Regions from separate parts of the Homo sapiens genome. Here region 1 is linked to region 2. Evidence: fine-mapped expression QTL. Tissue or cell type: prefrontal cortex. Region 2 holds a variant in brackets; the other region holds the start of a gene. All regions are shown on one strand. Distances are between the middles of the regions.

Region 1 (9,488 bases), 27 kb after region 2:
CACAATTTACAAATGGATAACTTGTTTAAAGGAGGGATGAGAACAGTGTTGAGGATGAAACCCACAGCAGCAGATGGTCCACATCAAATTGTGAAGAAAACATTTTTCTTGTTCACGCCCTAGTTGAAGAGGCCCAACAATTCACAGCAGGAGCAATAACCAACACCATAGACATCTCGAATGGTTCACCTTACACAATTCTGACTAAGAAATTAAAGTTGAGCAAACTTTCCACTCAATGGGTGCCAAAACCATTGTATCCAGATCAACAGCAATCAACAGCAGTGCTTTCAATAGAATTTTTAAACAAGTAGGATGAAGATTCTGAAGCATTTCTTTGAGGAATTGTAACAGGAGATGGAACATGGCTTTACCAGTATGATCGTGAAGACAAAGTACAACCAAAGCAACGGCTACCAGGAGGTGAAAGTGGTCCAATTACAGCAAAAGCAGACCACTCAAGAGCAAAGGTCATGGCAACAGTTTTATGGGGATGCTCAAGCCATTTTGCTTGTTGACTTTGTGGAGGGCCAAAGAAAGATAGTATCTGTTTATTGTATAAGAGTGTTTAGAGAACGCCAAAGCTTTATCATAGAGTCCTTCACCAAAACAATGCTCCTGCTCATTCCTCTCAAACAAGGACAATTTTGCAAGAGTTTCAGTGGAAAGTCATTAGGCATCTGCCTTGCATTCCTGATTTGTCTCTTTCTGCCTTTTTGTTTTCTAATCCTAAAAATTATTTAAAGGACACCATTTTTTCTTCAGTTAATAGTGTAAAACATGTTGCCTTGTCATCAGTTAAATTCTCAGGATTCACAGTTCTTTAGAGATAAACTAAGTGGCTGGTATCATTTCTTATAAAAGTCTCTTGACCTTGATGGTGCTTATGTTGAGAAATAAAGTTTACATTTTTTATTTTTAACTTTCAATTCCGTTTTTCCATGACCTTCTTGAAGTCCCCTTGAATATTTAGGAAAAATTTCACAACAATAGTGAAATACCTATGTACCAAAAACTACAATCCATTGCTTAAAGAAATTAAAGAACAACTACATAAATGAGGAACAACAGAAAAATTGTTTATGGATGGAGGACTCAATAGAGTTAACATGTCAATTTTACAAGTTGAATTTATATTCGATGCAATTCTAATAAAAATTTCACCAGAAGTTTTACTGGGGTAAATATTTATGAGCAAATTCTAAAATTTATATCAAAATGAGAACTTAGAAGAGCCAAAGCAATTTTTAAAAAGAGAAAGTTGGAGAATATACAGTATCTTTTTCCAAGACTTACTATAAAGCTAATCAATACAATGTGGAACTAGTGAAAGAATAAATGTATAAATCCATGGTACAGATCCCAGAAAATGACAAACACACCTACTGTCAAGTGATTTTTGACAAATAAACTAAGGTAATTAAGTGGGGGTAAAGAATAGTCTTTTTAGTAATGGTGCTGAAGCAACTGGCTCTCCATATGACAAAAAAATTGACCCTTGGTTTTTATTTCATACTAAACATAAACATTAGCTCAAAATGCATGATATAACTGTGTGTGAACACTGAAATTATAAAATTTATAGAGAAGCACTTAGGAGAAAAATCTTAGCATTTCCACTTTGTCCACACAAAAAAGTATGAACCGTGAAATAAATTTTTATGCTAGTATATTATAAGTGGTATATTGGTATATTGTGGTATGTTGGTATACTGGTGGTATACTGGTAATTTGGATTAATTCAAATGAAAGTATATTGTGCTTTGAAAACACACCATTAAAAATAATAGGAAAGTCACATACTGGGAGGAAATGTATTCCATACACTCATCTGAAAAGAGATGTCTATCCAGGAGAAAAAATAACTCCTACAACTCAATATTAAGATGACACATGGAGCCCAATAAAAATTGGACAAAATATTAGAACAGATACTTTACCATAAGCCAATGTGTTCATGAAAAGATGCCCCACATTATTCAATTTCAGGGAAGGTTTATTAAAACCACAGCGAGTTAATACTACATACCCGTTGGAATGGCTAACACTGAAAAGACTGGCAATACACAAAATGTTGGCAAAGATACCCAGCAACTGGAATTCTCCAACATTGCGGGAGAAAGTATCAAATGTTACAGCCACTTTGGAAAACTGCTGGGTTTTTTCTTATACATTTCAACATATCTCTACCATATGATCCAGCCTTTTCAATTCTAGCTGTTTACCTGAGAGAAACACCTATGCCTACATTAAGGCTTGCACATGAATATTCATACAGCTTTACTTATAACAGTTCCCAAATGGAAAGTACCCAAATGTTCATCCACAGGTGAACAGATGAACAAACTATTGCTTATTTATATAGTGAAATACTACTCAGCAATAAAAAATCTACTGATGTATGCAACAGTATGTATGAATCTGAAAGTCAGTACGCAAAATGAAAAAGCCAGACACAAAATCCATACTGCATAATTCCATTTATATGACATTTTATAAAATGTAAATTAATCTATAGTGACAGAATACAAATCTGAAGGCCTGTCTGAAGGCCAGGTGTGGAGGCAAGAGTCAAAGTGACACAAGAAACTTTTGTACGAATGGAAACTCTCTGCAGCTTGATTGTTGTGGCTTCACAGGTGTATAAATCAATGAAAGCTCATCAGATTGCTCAAGCGGTACTTTAAAAGGTACATAGAAATATCAGATTATGCAACGTTGTTTCAGGAGAAAGACATTCTTGTTTCTTGGATCACATGTAAGAAGCATTTGAACAGATGCTAGAACAGCATTCTCAACATATACTCACTATTCTGTTGCAATTTTCCTCTACAGTCTTGGGGGCATTAACATGATAATGAAGAAAACAGAAGGTATAAAATCATGGGGCAGGTATAACCACACATCAATTCAACACGAACACAGAGGTTAAGACTTAGAGCTTGTTAGCTGGTAATTGTCTTGTATTTTGTTTAAACCACAGGTGGACAAGCCCGCCATAACCATCTCTTTTCCTTACAAGTTACCCATCTTCCACTAGGATGGAATAAAAGAATTATAGTGTTGGATGGGGTCATTTCCTCTTTGTAAAGATGAGGAGGATAGAGGACTAAGTAGATTATGAATGACAAAGGCAGTGGGTGATGAGAAATGAGACTTGATACCTCCTGACACCCCATTCAGCGCTTCCTGCCCATTTTTATTTTACAGTAAAAACACACAAAAATTACAGCTGTTAAGACTACTTACATCCATAAGAATTTTTTCAAAAAACACAGGAAATAGAAAACATGTGTGGCTATAGGTGAAGAATTGAAGCAAATGAGAGAAGCAAACATTATGTCAGCTCCAGACACTCAGAAATAAAGTTACAACTTTTCTTGATCCCAATAGCCTGATACAATGCTAAGGTCATCATAGACTAATTAATCAAATTACATTTTCTAGTCTACCTGCTGCATTTCTTACTACATTGTAATTCCCCTGATGACCAAGACATGGCTTTTTCGTTTTTCTTGTTTCCTGAAGATTCTGATATACTTCCTGTCACATAGTTGATCCTCAGTGAACATTTATAATAAATTGAGCAACTGTCAAATGTCGTATTTTCAGGGAGCAATCCGTATACTTTCATGTTGCCTTTAATGTTTATTCTGGCATTATATATATTTTTGTCCATATGTCTGTGTGTAAAATAACAATGTGTATTCTCGTCAGAAGGTATTTTCTATTTCAACACCTGTGCAAGTAGAAGGTGAAAATCCTTCCCAAATGCCGCAAGAGCTCATGGCAAATGCAGAACTATTGTTAAGAAATTTTTCTCTTGAGCCTGTAATGTCATAGCACTTCAGTGAGGGCAGAAGAAAAGACAAACTGATATTACGTATCCTTAGGTAAAAGGATTTGGGGCTATTCCTGACTCTCTATTGAAAAAATAGGGTAAAATCTAACTAACATAATTTCAGTGTTATTCAATGTTTTGTTAATGGGGGAAAGCATCATTTTAACTACAGCAATCTATAGTGTTATGGACTGATTACTAGTTCAAATGACAGAGTCCTACAGTGAAACCCATAATTTTACATTGCGTTCTGCAAAAGATGATGGCAGTTCTTCACATTTAATGGTGTTGCTAGCTCAGAATCTTGTTAACACTCAGAGTCTGAGAGGTTGTGCTTATCCTTTCTTATTTTAAGCCAGAAGGAAAAATTTTCAAAGATCTATTGGCCTTTGTTTTTCACGTACGGGATTTTGGTCAATTAGAAAATTACAAAGAAGAGGCACCTCAATTTGAAAATTTGAGAATAGAATGATAAAATTATAAAGAAATGAATTTTTTTCCACAATAAAAAAAAAGACAAGTACTGTGGTTTGACTTGCGTTTAGCTCTTTGTAGCTATTTCTAGTCACTGATTCTATGGAAAGTCGCTAAGGAGTTAGTCGCTTGTTACTGGGCAACAATTTATTCCAATTATAACTGAAATGTTGCTAATAGACAGTTACCGGTGGATAAGAACAGACTTTAAAAATGAACTATTAACTCCACAGCATTTTCTCTTGTTGTAAAGAGGCAGAAATTATTCTAACAATTGACACTTTGTAATGTTCTAAGGTCTTTTTAGACATTTCAAGCGCTCTGGGGGCACCGGTGAGGACCCAGGGGCGGCATGGTTCAGAGCTGTTAAATATAGAGCGACACAATTAGATAGAATAGCTATAGAGACCCGAGACCAAATGTTACCAGCGTATGGAATGCCACATTCTCTATAAGATGCAAATAGCATACAACCTTCAAAATCCATAGGAGTTTTTTTTTTTTTTTAGAAAAAGGTTTTAATGGACATTTGGTAACTACATTCTGTTTTTGACAACCTCCCCATTACATTTCTAGTTATCTATTCAAAACCAAAGGACAAAAAATAAAAAAATAAAAACTACACCAGTTTACAAAGAACAATGGGGCGAAAGCAAAATGTATTCCTTGCTGTTTCACACGTGCTTTTAAAGGAAACAAACAACCAAACAAACAGAGAAATTGTAGTTCCTAAGTTTCTTGACCCAAATCCAAGCAGACTCATTGACAAGCCTAAACCTCTCCGTGTGTCTTCCTGCTTCTGAGGCTAAAATATGGATAAGCTCAAAGTTTGACACATGGATATATTTTCAAATGACATGTTTAGTGTACAAAAAAAGAGATGTCTATGTTTTTTTCTTCTTTATAACATTAAGATGTGATGTAAAATATAGTAGCCAGAGTTGCATTTTTCACATGAGCAAAAGTTACATGCAGAAAAAGAACAGAAGTTCGTTGATTGTAGGATATGTAACCTTGAGAACTTTATCTTATAGCCAACGGTCACACATTCTGAAATGTCTTAAGTGATCTGGTCAGTGCTAAAGGTAGTAAGAAAATCTGGTTGCTGAAAATTTACACTATCTAATTTCAGTTATTCCCCCACAACAGAGTAACAGGCAAGCACATTCTCAGCAGCCGTTCCAGGCAGAGTATACACAGAAATACTTGTTGAATTTAATTGGGTTGAATAAAAATTTGTCCTTTTGAGGAACAAAGTTAGCATCTCAAATACAAGGTCTGCAAATGATGTAGGTTCTTCTTAGTTGGCTAATGAACTCCTGACTAGTTACAGATGAAAGGGATTAAAATGACTTTACTGAGCACTCACTTTAGTCTGTTTCATTATCTGAACTAAGGAAGTCTAAGACAATTAGGATTCCTTAAAAAAAAGTTTCATCATTGCACTTCCTGTTTGATGAGTAAACAGCAGACTCGTTATGGTCTGCAAGGTACCTATTAAAACCCGTAACATCCCTGGAAGGAAGTAACTTGGAGAAAGTCAAGAAATCTTTCTGACAGGACACCGCAACTCCAAACAATCAACAACTCATTGTCATAGTGCGACAATCTTAGCCCTGTTGCAACTGGGCAAATAGTCCATTTGCAGAGAGAAGCATCATCGGGGTAGACAGGAATGCTGTTATTAACCATTATAAGTATGACGCGAAGGTCGTACATCAGGCTATTACACCTTTTCATTATACGCTAACCCCTCACGGCAGGGAAGCCACGCTTATGACTGCATTAGACAGACAAAGCCTTCAGCTCTTTAAAAAAAGAAAAAGCAAAAAAAAAAAAAAAAAAAAAAAGATGAAAAAAATTAAACTCGTTTTCTTACCAGCACGTTGCAGCACCAACTCGCTCACAGGAATGTTGCCTTTTACAGGTTTCTCTTTTAATTATCCTAGAAGCAGGGAGAGAAAAAAAAAAAAAATCAAAAAAAAAAAAAAAGGCAAAGAAGAAGCAGGGTGGTTAAATTAGCGTGCTGGAATCTTTTCAGTTTGTCGCAGAGTAGAAAAATAAAAAAAGGAAAAAAAAGGCTCAGTAATTTAAATTTGCTCTCAGTTCAGGCTGCAATGCTGGGTCCCGCCCCTTCTTCCGGCTGGGTTCCACTACCTGCAAGGCTGGAACTGACAGCCACTGTGCAAACAAAAAAAGGCAACAAGCATGCTGGGACCATTCTGTCTGCTGTTTGGGTCTCACTTGTCCTGACAACTAAAAATCATCAGTGGAAAGGTATTCTACATTTTTTATTTGAGGTATTTTATTTGAGGTATTTGCATGTAACTCCCATTCATTTTAATTGATACACCATAGTACATGATGTTGGGTTTGATTTCTGTTTGGGGTGTAATTTTTTTTCTTTTTCTAAACATCTATAATTATTAACACTATTTTTACTATGACAGTTTAGTGACATCTTGTGCATTTCTTACTGTTCCTGTCTCCTGCTCCAAAACACATTCTTTCCTGTCTTTTCCTTTAATTCCTAAACACTGAAATTTCTGGGAATATAGAGATGGAAATACCAAGATTAGTAAGGTTTCCACTTCTGCTCTGACTCTTTCTTTTTTTGGGGATGGTGGGAGGGCTACAGGGAGGTGCATCATACTAAGAATAGTTTAAGGGACAGAGGGCCTAGGATGAAGGTCCCATCAACCCCAGAAACTTCTAGGAAGGATGAAATATTCAAATGAAAAAGTCTCCACAACGAAATGCAAGAAGTTTATTTTCGTATTTATGTATTGTGCAAATAACTAAAAATAATGGAAATAAACTTGGTCTCCATTGCCAATTTTACCTAAGGTGTCTCCTATAGAAAACCGCTTTAATTTTAGCAAGAAAAACCTGATACTTAACGTGCAGGGTATTGCGAGTGTGTAGCAGAGGAATTATGAAAGAGAATAAACCCCATCCTTCTTCTGTCAGGATGTAAATTGCTTGTGCAGAATTTTCAACAAGGTTTTTTTTGTGTGTGTTGTTGTTCTTTTCTAAATGCTCTTTTCAGACGAGTGTGTTAGCGACTACTTCAGTATTAAAGCTATCGGAAGACTGTTGTAGTAGGGAACATCTATAAAGTTGCCTCTTGATCTGAAGCACTGCTTTTATGAAGGTTTATGGCATTGGTGCTCCTATGCAAGTCTGGATTTTTCTCTGATCATCCGACTACCCTAACTTGAGAGGACCATGCTGACTGATGTGTCATGTCCCATAGCTGGGGGTGGGTTGCTAAGGAGTAAAATATATAATTGTACACAGTTCTTCAACAGTGGCCAAAGACACAGAAGAGAGTTACTCTTGATAACATGATTGTGCTTAATCTACTTTTTAAAATAAACTATTATTTACCTCTTATCCCTACCTCAAGCCATTTAAATGGATTTCACCATTTCTGCACAACTTGCAGAACCTCTTAAATTCAAGGACGCACTGCTTTAATGCATTTCACTTTTAAAAATCAGACTTTCAAAAGATAAATGATTAAAAATGTAATTTAAATAAATATGAGTTCACTTTTTAAATTGGTAAAAATTTAGCTGTCAAATATTTGTTCTGTCATTTGAGGTCTCATCAAAAAACCAAACCAATTAAAAATGGAAAGGTCTGAGATGCACAGAGTGAAACTCCATCTTTGTCTTGTATTATAACCTTTACCAGGATTATTTCTCTACTACTGTTCAGCAATGAATGCCTTTGCTCACTTCCTACTAACAGCTGTAGCATAGAAAAAAAAAAAGGGCAGGTCAAGTACTCAAGAAGCCATGTTAACTTCCCAAATAGTTATGCAATCAGCTTTAATGAAACAGTGGTAGATTACACCAATGTGCTAATTATAGGACTTTGTCATAGCATAAGATGCAACGAAACAACCCATGCCTTGGCTTGGAAAGTGCTATGCATAGATTATTTCAAAAGATTTAATTGAAGAGAGATTTTATTTTCCTGAAGCATTCTACAATTAAGTGGCATTCTTTCAATCCTTTCTCTTTTAAGACTAGTTCTGGACAAAAAAAAAAAAAAAAACAAACCTGAAAATAAAGTAATGACTTAAAAAATATCTTACTACAAATATGACTAATTTGCCAATATTAGTTACTTTGGTATAATTTTGAACATAACATACTTAGAACATGTTAGGGAATATCAAAATATACAGAGTGGCACATACTGGTTTATATTCTGAATGTCTATTTTAAATGAAGAAATAATACTTTTATGTTCATCAATGTTTATTGAGTTCAGTTAGAAAAATATTAATTTTTTAAGAGACTGAGTCTCACTCTGTTACCCAGGCTGGAGTGTAGTGACATGATAATGGCTCACTACAGCCTCAAAATCCTGGGCTCAAGCCTTCTGTGAAGGTGGGGCTACAGGTGAACACCACCATGCTTGCTAATTCTTTATTTCATTTTTTGTTGAGATAGGGGCCTGTGTTGCCCAGGCAGGTCTCAAACTACTGGTCGCAAGATAACTTCCTACCTCAGCTTCCCAAAGTCCTGGGATTATGGGAGAATGTTAATTTGAATTAAAATAAAATAACCCTGACATTAAACTTAAGAGAAGGGACATTTTTGTTTGGCTAATGTCAACTAGGTTTTAGCAAATGTGTGAGACATGTGATTCCACTAGATATTTAACCTATTATTTCAGAGAATTTTACTTGGTGCTGGAGAGATTAAGCAATATATTACATATCTCACAGCCATACTGGAAAAAAAATCCACTTCAAAAATAAATATCCCACTAAATTGTTAGGGCATTCTGTGGAGTGATACACATTTAGGTGGCTTTCACATCATGGAGATGTGTTTTAAAGAAATACACTGAACAAGTTTCCTGGAGATATATTTTAAAGAACTTCTTGGAATTGGCATATTGTCATATGCTATTTAAATTTTCATGCTCAGAGAAAATATCGAGGTGGGAAACGCTAATTCATTTTTTAAAAGCTGTATCAAATCAATACATCTTAGTCTTTCCAGTTATAACTGATAATTAAATATCATTTTCAAACTTCTTGCATATATTAAAATTATTACTTTTTGATAAATGTATTCCTCATTATGAGTCAACTGTCTTCAGTGTAATTTTACTGTTTTGTCTTTTGGGCAGTATCATACTGTCTAATAAA
Region 2 (9,503 bases):
CGGACCCTGTGGCTGTTCAGGTAGAGAGGACAGGGATGAAAGTGTGGATGATGTTTAAGGCACCCTTGAGGTCCTCTACATGAGTTTTCTTTAGTAACCTTAAGTTCTCCACTAGTTCCTAGTAAAGGGGCAATGTCTAAATATTGGGTGGAAACACCCAAACAGCCATTCTTCTGTCCACATACATCATGGTAAGGCCACAGAACTCTTCAAAGATATGACTCACAGCTGTTTAATGTTCCATACATAATATGAACTCTTTTTGATGTTCTTGTTTACAAAGAGGTAAATTTTTTTTGAGATAGAGTCTCGCTCTGTCGCCCAGGCTGAAGTGCAGTGGCACCATCTCAGCTCACTGCAACATCCGCCTTCTGGTCACGCCATTCTCCTGCCTCAGCCTCCCGAGTAGCTGGGACTACAGGCGCCCGCCACCATGCCTGGCTAATTTTTTGCATTTTTTTTTTAGTAGAGACGGGGTTTCACCATGTTAGCCAGGATGGTCTCGATCTCCTGACCTCATGATCTGCCCGCCTCGGCCTCCCAAAGTGCTGGGATTGCAGGCATGAACCATTGCACCTGGCCACAAAGAGGTAAATTTTTGATGGGACACAGTGGACTTTCAATTCAGTCTTTAATTGCTTATAGGCTAATATTAACTTAAAATAGCCCAAGCAGTGGTATCCCAATCCACCCTAGCTTGATTTTCTCTACTGTCATTTAGCTTAATTTGGACCTTTTGTTGTATGTAGATTCATATTAATTTTTATCTGAGACATCAAATCCCAGAGTCTAATCATATTATTTTTTATAGAGGCCTTTGATAGTGAATATGGCATTTAGATGAGAAACTCTAAGATCAGGTACAATGATGAACACAGAACAGATGCTCAAAAAACCCTCTGTGATTGGTTTAAGAGAAGAGCTTCACTGAAGAAGATTATGCTGAGGGTGTCTAACATGTGTATAAAAAAATGATCTGAGGAAGAAAATGTCAAATCTCCTTATCATATATTTATTGCTTTCCTTTTTGTTAATTAGAACAAACCAATCAGTTTTTCTATGTCTTGTTCTTCCCGTATGTAAAACACCATTTATTGGAAAGCAACTGGCTACAGTATTAAGAGAACTTGTAATGCGCTCTGCTATTTCTCAGAATGCCCATTTCTCTGAGTGGGAATAGTCAAAGATGTTGAGTTACCCTTCATATTCTACCATTCAGTAACAAAGCCTACTAAAAGAAAATGTCCATGTGTTATTAGAAATTCAACTTTACAGGAAAACATTCTGAATTCCAGTATTTCAAAACCCTGCTCCATTGATCTTGAGGCTGCTACCTTTTCATCCCTTCCTTTGAAAGGAAACATCATAAACTGGAGAGAGAGTGATTCCTGCAGCGTGGTCTACATGGTTCAGGCTGAAATGTATTCATTAATTCACTGTTTGTGAAGCATTCATTCCGTGCCAGGCAAAGACTGCTGTGCTTTGGAGGCAGTCAGCCTCTCTTGGGAGAGACATTAGTGTAAACTTCTCAGAGATTTTACCCTGGAAACACTTCAGGGCCCCTGAGAACAAAGAACCATGAGGTCACCGGGGAGACAGCACATCTTCTGCTTTGGATGGTCAGGGGAAGGTTAGAGGCAGGTTGGCAAAATGGTACTTTCTAGGCAGAGAACAACATTATGATCCAGACTCAAAGGGATGGGCACAGAGCAGCCTACCGCTTGTTAAACAGTTTGGGCTTTTGCAGCTGGGCACGGTGGCTCAGGCCTGTAATCCCAGCACTTTGGGAGGCCGAGGCGGGTGGATCACTTGAGGTCGGGAGTTTGAGACCAGCCTGGCCAACGTGGTGAAACCCTCTCTCTACAAAACATACAAAAATTAGCTGTATGTAGTGTCAGGCACCTGTAATCCCAGCTACTCAGGAGGCTGAGGTGGGAGAATTGCTTGAATCTGGGAGGCGGAGGCTGCAGTGAGCCTAGATCATGCCACTGCACTCCAGCCTGGGCAACAGAGTGAGACTCCATCTCAAGAAAAAAAGAAACAAACAAAAAAAAAACGCCCAAAATCCAAACAAACAAAAAAAGAATTTGGGCTTTTGCTAAAGGCTGTGAAACTTATTTTTTTTTGGTAAAGTATATATAAAATTTACCATTTTGACCATTTTTAGGTGTACAGTTTAGTGGCATGAAGTACATTAATACCTTTGTGGAACCGTCTCCACCATGCATCTCCAGAACTTTTTCCATCTTGCAAAACTGAAACTCTGCACCTATTCGCCCATAGCCATCCATGCCCCCTCTCCCCAGACCCTGGCAATCACCATTCTACTTTTCTGTTTCTGTGAATTTGACTACTCTAGTGCCTCATTTAAGAAAAATCGTACAGTATTTGTTATTTTGTAATTGGCTTATTCCACTTAGCATAATGTCCTCAAGGTTCATCCATGTTGTAACATGTGTCAGAATGTCCTTCCTTTAGAGGGTGACCGTATCAGTTTGTTCTCATGCTGCTAATAAAGACATACCTGAGACTGGCTAATTTGTAAAGAAAAACAGATTTCATGGACTCACAGTCCCACATGGGTGGGGAGGCCTCACAATCACGGCAGGAGGTGAAAGGCACGTCTTACTACACGGTGGCAGGCAAGAGAGAGAATGAGAACCAAGTGAAAGGGATTTCCCCTTATCAAACCATCAGCTCTCATGAGACTTATTCACTACCATGAGAACAGTATGGGGGAAACTGCCCCCATGATTCAGTCATCTCCAACCAGGTCCTTCCCACAACATGTGGGAATTATGGGAGCTACAATTCAAGATGAAATTTGGGTGGGGACACAGCCAAACCATTTCAGTAACTGATACTTCATTGTATTTATATGTCACTTTTTGTTTATGGTGGTCACTTGGGTTACTTCCACCTTTTTGTTATTGTGAATAATGCTGCTGTAAACGTGGGTGGACAAATCTCCCTTCAGTTTCTTGCTTTCAATTCCTTTGGCTATGTACTCAGAAGTGAAACTGCTAGATCATATGGTAGTTCCATGGTTTATTTTTTTGGAAGAACCGCCATACTTTTGTCTGCTTTCCAAGTGCAGCTTGCATATATATATAT[T/ATT]TATTATACTTTAAGTTCTAGGGTACATGTGCACAACGTGCAGGTTTGTTACATATATATCTATGTGCCATGTTGGTGTGCTGCACCCATTAACTCATCATTTACATTAGGTATATCTCCTATTGCTATCCTGGAGAGACAGACTAATCAGCTTGGTTTAGAGAACTCATTTCCTGCTCTGAGGAGAATGGAAAAGAGGGGCAAGGCTGGATTTGAGCTGTTGTGCAAACGGATTAGAGATGGAGATGTGATCAGAGGCTGTCTGTTGTGGAAGAGGACAGAGGATGAACTGCAGAGATTTTCAGAGAAGTACAGTCAAGTGCTTAATGATGTTGGTGATCTGGCATCACCAATAACTAGTCTCTGACATGAAAGAAAATTAAAAATAGAATAAATCCTAAATTACTGAGTTAACTGGGAAGGGATGGAGAATGGAATAGCACAAGAAGTGAGAGGACGGGAGGAAGAGGGGTAAGAAAATGGGAAAGTGGGAAAGAGAGGGATGGGGCATTCAAGAAGAAAGGAAAAAAGACCTGGCAAAAAAGGATCTCATGTATAAGAAAAGATCATGTTTATGAAAAGACGATCATTTGGGCTTGTATGTAACAACAAATGCAGTTAAAAAGATGTTCTTTAGACGTGGTGGAGAAAGTCAGGACAAGAAAGACATAGACAACTAGCTGGTTACTGGCACCAGCTAGATGAACCACTTTTGTCAATGTGGCTTAACTGAATTGACTATTTAACTGAGCACAAAGATTTCACTGGCTTTGGGTTTGAATGCAACACAAACTTTTTGTTTCAGAGATTAGAGATAGGAATTCACATTCTAAAAGAATTCATGAATGCTCCATCATGAAAGTAAGAAAATTAATACCCACAGTTTGTAACAATGGGCTTCATGCAGTTGAGCTGAGAAAACCCTAAGATTAGCTATACAGTCCAGGAGCCACCCATATTTAGGAAAACACAGGGCTGCCAGCGTATGTTTGTAAGAACAATTAGAATGAAGATTATCTTCCTGAAGATACCAAAGAGCAAGAGGCAAAGAGCACCAAATGAATTCAAAACTATTTCTAGTGCACATACTGCAGGAAACCTCATTTAGTCATATTTTAGAATGGATATGCTATGCAAACAAGTATAATTTCTGTGCAAGACAATTCTGCATCTATTCAGTGTGTCTGGATGAAGTTTTTGAAACACACTGAAAAAAATATATTGAATAGATTTTAATGTCAGTGAAAGGGGCTGGATTGAAGTACCTAGACTCATTTGTGTGCTTTGCTAGGGAAACCTCTTTGCCAAGTAAGTTCCTCTAACTTTGACCTTGAGGGAGCTAAGCTGGTTCAGAGGAGGAGGAATCAGTGGTTTTCTAGCTGCGATCAGATTTAAGTTTTCCTTAGTCCATTCCCTACAGACATTTATATAGTAGTGGTTTTTCTTACAATAGTCACTGGGAAACAATAACCAATTAAGTGAAAACTTCATACCATTTGCTCCTCTAATGCTGTTTTTATGTGACCTTCTCATTTGTAGTTTGACATCTTTTGGAGGTGAAATATCTCTGGCTGTAAAACTCTTCCATTTGTATAGAAGCTTGTCTTTAATCCCAAGTAGCCATTATTAACTCCCTTGGGCAATTTGGGTCAACCTTTTTTATCTTGGTATTCATGTGGGAAGAAGGCTGTTTACTTAGCGGGGTTTAGACATGGGGAAAGAAATGACCACTCCCAGTCTAGGGGCTTATGCTCATTTGTAACCTATCCTCATATCCCTATGTTCTTCACTTTTTTCTGCTCTTCTTTATTTTATGTAATGTGTGTGTACCTGTGTTTACATTAATATCTGTGAATAATTTCCAGCCTATTGTGCACATGCTCCACCCCCCCCCAACCAGATAGATTAGATTATAAATGATAATCTCTGGGATGACAGAGAGGGCACTTTTGCCTCTTTAAAAATACCCCTTTTCCTCCAAAATCATCACAGACAGGTTTGACTCTGCAGTGAATATCCTTTAGTGCATTTGGCTGAATGAAGTCCAAAAAAGTAACCATAATAAGACATTCCTGGACAAAGGCATTTTCCACAGAATCACATTAGGCAGACTTGGCAGATGCCATGTGATAAAGGAAAACAGTGATTTCTGCTCATGACAATTTTGCAAGCCTTAAAACCAAATTTCCAACTGTAGTTTTTCATTTCCTATCTCTTCGAATAATAGGATTGTTTCTAATTTAGGCAAAATTTGCCTAAATCTGGTATTTAGGCTAAATCTGATATTTAGGCAAGCCTAAAGAGTTCTGTTACTGTTACAAATGGTATTTTAGTTGTCATTAGTTTATGACATGATAGGAGTGATTTTTTCCCCCATGACATTCCAGAGAATTTTACTGGAAGAATAATCAAATGTGATGTTTCAGATAAATAACAAAGGTTTATGTTAGTCATGCCATAAAGTACTCTGCATCTTTCCTTCTGACATCTGAATCTCTGTAAGTTACACAAATATGTGTTCCTTCTGCATGATGCATAGAAATCCACCCACCCTCCCCCCAAACCTGTACTCACATAGATTCTTAATTTAAAAATGTGAATGGAAAAGTTATTTTTCTGGAATTCTAGAGTTCATGAGGTTGTTTGCTTGAAATTGTCAACTCCACCTGAAATCTTACCATTTTGCTGATTTTCGTCACGTTTTGTTTTAAGGATAGGCCACACAGGATATATTAGCACACATCACTCTCAAATAATTAATGGACTACTTTATAAAATTGCTCCAGAATATTAAAAATCCAAAGCATTGCCCCAAAGTATAGGTCTCTCATGCCTAAGCAATCATCTGTAGTTGCAGTTGCTATTTTTGACTGACATATAAGAATCAAAATTGAATTCATTTCTAATATACACCGTATACTCACTGAGTTATGTGAACAAATGGGAGAGCTAATTGAAATGATTAAATAACACTAAGAAATGAAGAAACATGAAAAATACAATATGATCGGACACTGCCAAAACAATCAGTACTAGACGGAGCTGACACTGAAAAATGTAGTCTAGTTTTAAAATTATCAGTGATGAAGACTCTCATTATGCTACAAATGTACCAGCACTGTTCCAGTTACAATTTGGAAATCCCAGGGCTGTTTGTCCTTCTGGATGAAGGTGACGACAGGACTAACATATCTGGACTCTCTAAGAAAAATCCTTTAGAGAAGTGAGGTTTCATTTTTGTTAGGTTGAGTCATTATTATCCTTCAGTATTAAGTTCTGTAGGGTGTAGGTTATGGGAAGTTTTTTTTTGGTGAAGAAGTTGGTGTGAAAATGTTCATCAGTGAGATGTCTAGAGCTTCTTGACAGCACTTTACAGGGCTGGGTGTTTGAGATGTGTATCAGAACCGCATTCGCTGAAATTACATTGATATTTAATGGAAGATTCTCCATAGCCTTGCTTGGAGGAAATTAAGCTGGCCACTATCACCATTCCCTACTCTAAATTTTGCCACTTTCAGTAGAGGAGGGTGTTCAGACATGTTGTTCTTTGTGTCTCTGTTGGGGATTTTGGAGTCAGGATTTTGATCCCAAGCTCCTTCTTGCATTGGTTATACGGTTTTTCAAACCTTGAAGGAAAAGAATGGAAAGATTTGATAATGAATGTACTTCAGTTTAACATCTACGTTAATTTGCTATGTCAAATTAATGTTATCAGTTTTTAAGGCTATACCTGTTATGTTTCTTAATACCATCATTATACAAACAAATCTCTGTTGAGAAAGAGTAGAAAAGAGAATAAAAGTGTAGAAATATGGTAATAATAATACCTGCCATTTCTTGAGCAATTAATCTCCTTGTGCATTAGTTTCTTGTCTATAAAATGAGGAAGATATTAGTAAAATACATGATTAAGTGAGCAAATACACATGAAGTGTTTTTGTAGCTTATAAGTTATAGCTAATACTGAATAAAGATTCAATACAGCTAGGTACCAGGTATGCTAAGCATTCTCCACAAATCACCTCTTCTGTCCATGAACACAAGTCTATCAGGCAAGTATTTCCAGCTTCTTTGTTGCAGATGAGGAAACTGACACATAGGGAAATTAAATAATCTGATGAGGTCACAGAACAAGTAGCTCTCCTAGAATTTGAAGTTTGATTTGTCTGACTCATGTTTTCAACTCTTTCACTAGTTCAGTCGTTTGTTTTCATCGCTATATTGATTTCCAAATAAGGATTGGGATTACTACTCCATTAGATTGCATTGAAAAGGCAATATAATAAGGATATCCTTAACTAATACTTCAAAATAAATTATAAATCAAGTTAGTTACATTTGATTTATCAAAATTAATGTTTTATGGTTATAGAACATGACAAGTTTATTTTCACTTTGGGGACTTTTGTTTTCTCATGAACTGTTGAAATTAGCTCATTCCATTAATAATATATTGGCTTTCACTGTTACATTTTTATGTAACAATCATGTAATGATCACATAATGATTATGTAATGATTATGCATTATTAAACAAAAGAACCCTAATAACATTTGCAATCTTTGGATTACAAATACTACTAACTTCAATTTCTCATTCTTATGTTCAACTATTTGATACAGATATATTTTTATACAATTTAAAGGGTTAAGCACAAAGACCACCATTACTAATTCATTTGGTATTCATTTTAAGACCTTTAATCGTGATGCATTAATTTGGTATAAATGTGGATATATTATTTCTTAACAATTCCACTGGAATTTACCAGTTAAATTGTCTAGTATAATTTCAACATCTTCTCAAATATGCATCAAAGTATAAGGTTTTGGTTATGAAACTTCCAAAGGTGAAGAAAGAGTCAAAGCATTTTTTTCTTTTCACAGGCGATATTGTAATACCCAATGGAAGGATGGGGTCATGGACGTCATGAAAAAGCCAGGGTAAAACTATCCACAGTTAATAATGCAGAAAAACATACTGTAGTGTGTTTGATTTAAAATTCCTGGGATTTAATGTACAAAGCTTTAGAACCAGTCCAATCCATGCAAGACAAAATCAACCAGGCTGCTGTTTGGCTTTGTAAATGGCTGAGATGTAACTTAAGAGAGGGAAGCTTTTGATTGTAAATAACCTCCCAGCCTTCATGCTGCTCTGACCTCTGACGTGGCCACTTGGCCATTCTACAATTTAAATTTTACAACTGTGCTATAAGTAAAACATTGGCAACTAATATCTAATAATAATAGTAACAAAGTAGAATACACGATCCAAGAAGAGCTGTCTTGAAAGGACAAAAGAAGACATTGCAGCATCCCCATTTGCTGAGAGCCATCACAGAAATCATAGGAAGCCAGCAAGATGTCTATTCTGAAACATGTCTACTTGTCCTGATACCTTTAAGCATAAAATGCTTCTACATTCTCTATGCAAGTGAAACACACCCCTAGGCATATACGATGGACAGGGAAATTTAATTTTATACTAGGGGAATGAAGAGATGGGATAGGAAGATAAATGTCAAATTGCTGCTTTGAGCTTTTTATAGTAATTCCTCTCTGCTCCCTTTTTGCCTTTCCTGACCTTTAGTGGACTGAGTCTTCTCCATCATCATTAGATCCTTCTGCTTTTAACACATGTCAATGGCTTCCTAAGTTAGGGTACAAACTCCAGGACAACAAACCCAAGAATGTTTATCTAGATTACTTTTCAAAATCCAATATAGGTTGAGCATTCTAAATCTGAAAATCCAAAATGCTCCACAGTTCAAAACGTTTTGATCACCACTGACATGACGCTCAAAGGAAATGCCCATTGGAGCTTTTCAGATTTCAGATTTTCAGGTTTGGAGTGCTCAATCAGGTAAGTATAATGCAAATATGACAAAACTCTCCCCATAATAAAAGGCCAAAAATCTGAAACACATTGGGTCCCAAGCTTTTGAGATACGGAATACTCAACCTGCTGTATAATGAATAGTAAATAGCATGCAATGGTGTAAAATGTAAAAGTTACTTTTGTATGAAGACAAAAAATGCAATTTATTAGAGAAGACTCATTTGAGCTCTGATGTTTAGCAGTTGCTCTCTCTAGATCACAAATTAAATCATGGTATTAAAATCATTATGGGGCCAGTTTCTAAGCCTTTCTATGTGCACTTGCATTCCTGTGTGGGTTTAATTAACCAGTGAGAAAAGGAAAAGGTTGGAGTTCTTTACTGGTGTTTGTATTATCTGTTGATTGTTTTCCTTAGTGCTTTTTCCAGTCTAGATTTAGAAGCTTGAGAATGAAGACCACCATTTCCACCTCTACCACAGGCTCTTGGAGCCTCATTGACATTTCCGGGAGAATAAAGAACATACTACTGGAGAGGCTGTAGCATTTCTTCA

Direction of the effects. Positions count from the first base shown, and alleles are read on the strand shown. Sizes are in standard deviations (SD) of each study's normalised expression.
For the expression in prefrontal cortex of the gene that starts at base 6,432 in region 1, allele T in region 2 goes with a higher level than allele ATT (small effect, 0.22 SD a copy in CommonMind).

What was found. PIP is the estimated chance that this variant, and not a neighbour inherited with it, causes the effect. A credible set is the group of variants that fine-mapping cannot tell apart.
Region 1: CELF2-DT starts here. The variant in region 2 is the best candidate, but not a certain one, in a credible set for the expression of CELF2-DT in prefrontal cortex (CommonMind, PIP 0.71).

The regions. Positions count from the first base shown.
Region 1 is chr10:10,459,293-10,468,780 of GRCh38, reverse strand. It overlaps CELF2-DT (CELF2 divergent transript), which reads left to right and starts at 6,432. Exons shown (of 4, transcript NR_120637.1): 1 at 6,432-6,592. It also overlaps a transcript of CELF2 not described here.
Region 2 is chr10:10,486,074-10,495,576 of GRCh38, reverse strand. It overlaps a transcript of CELF2 not described here. Among named protein-coding and RNA genes, the nearest start is that of CELF2-DT, 28 kb to the right of the region's middle. The variant T/ATT (reference allele first, on the strand shown) is at 3,115.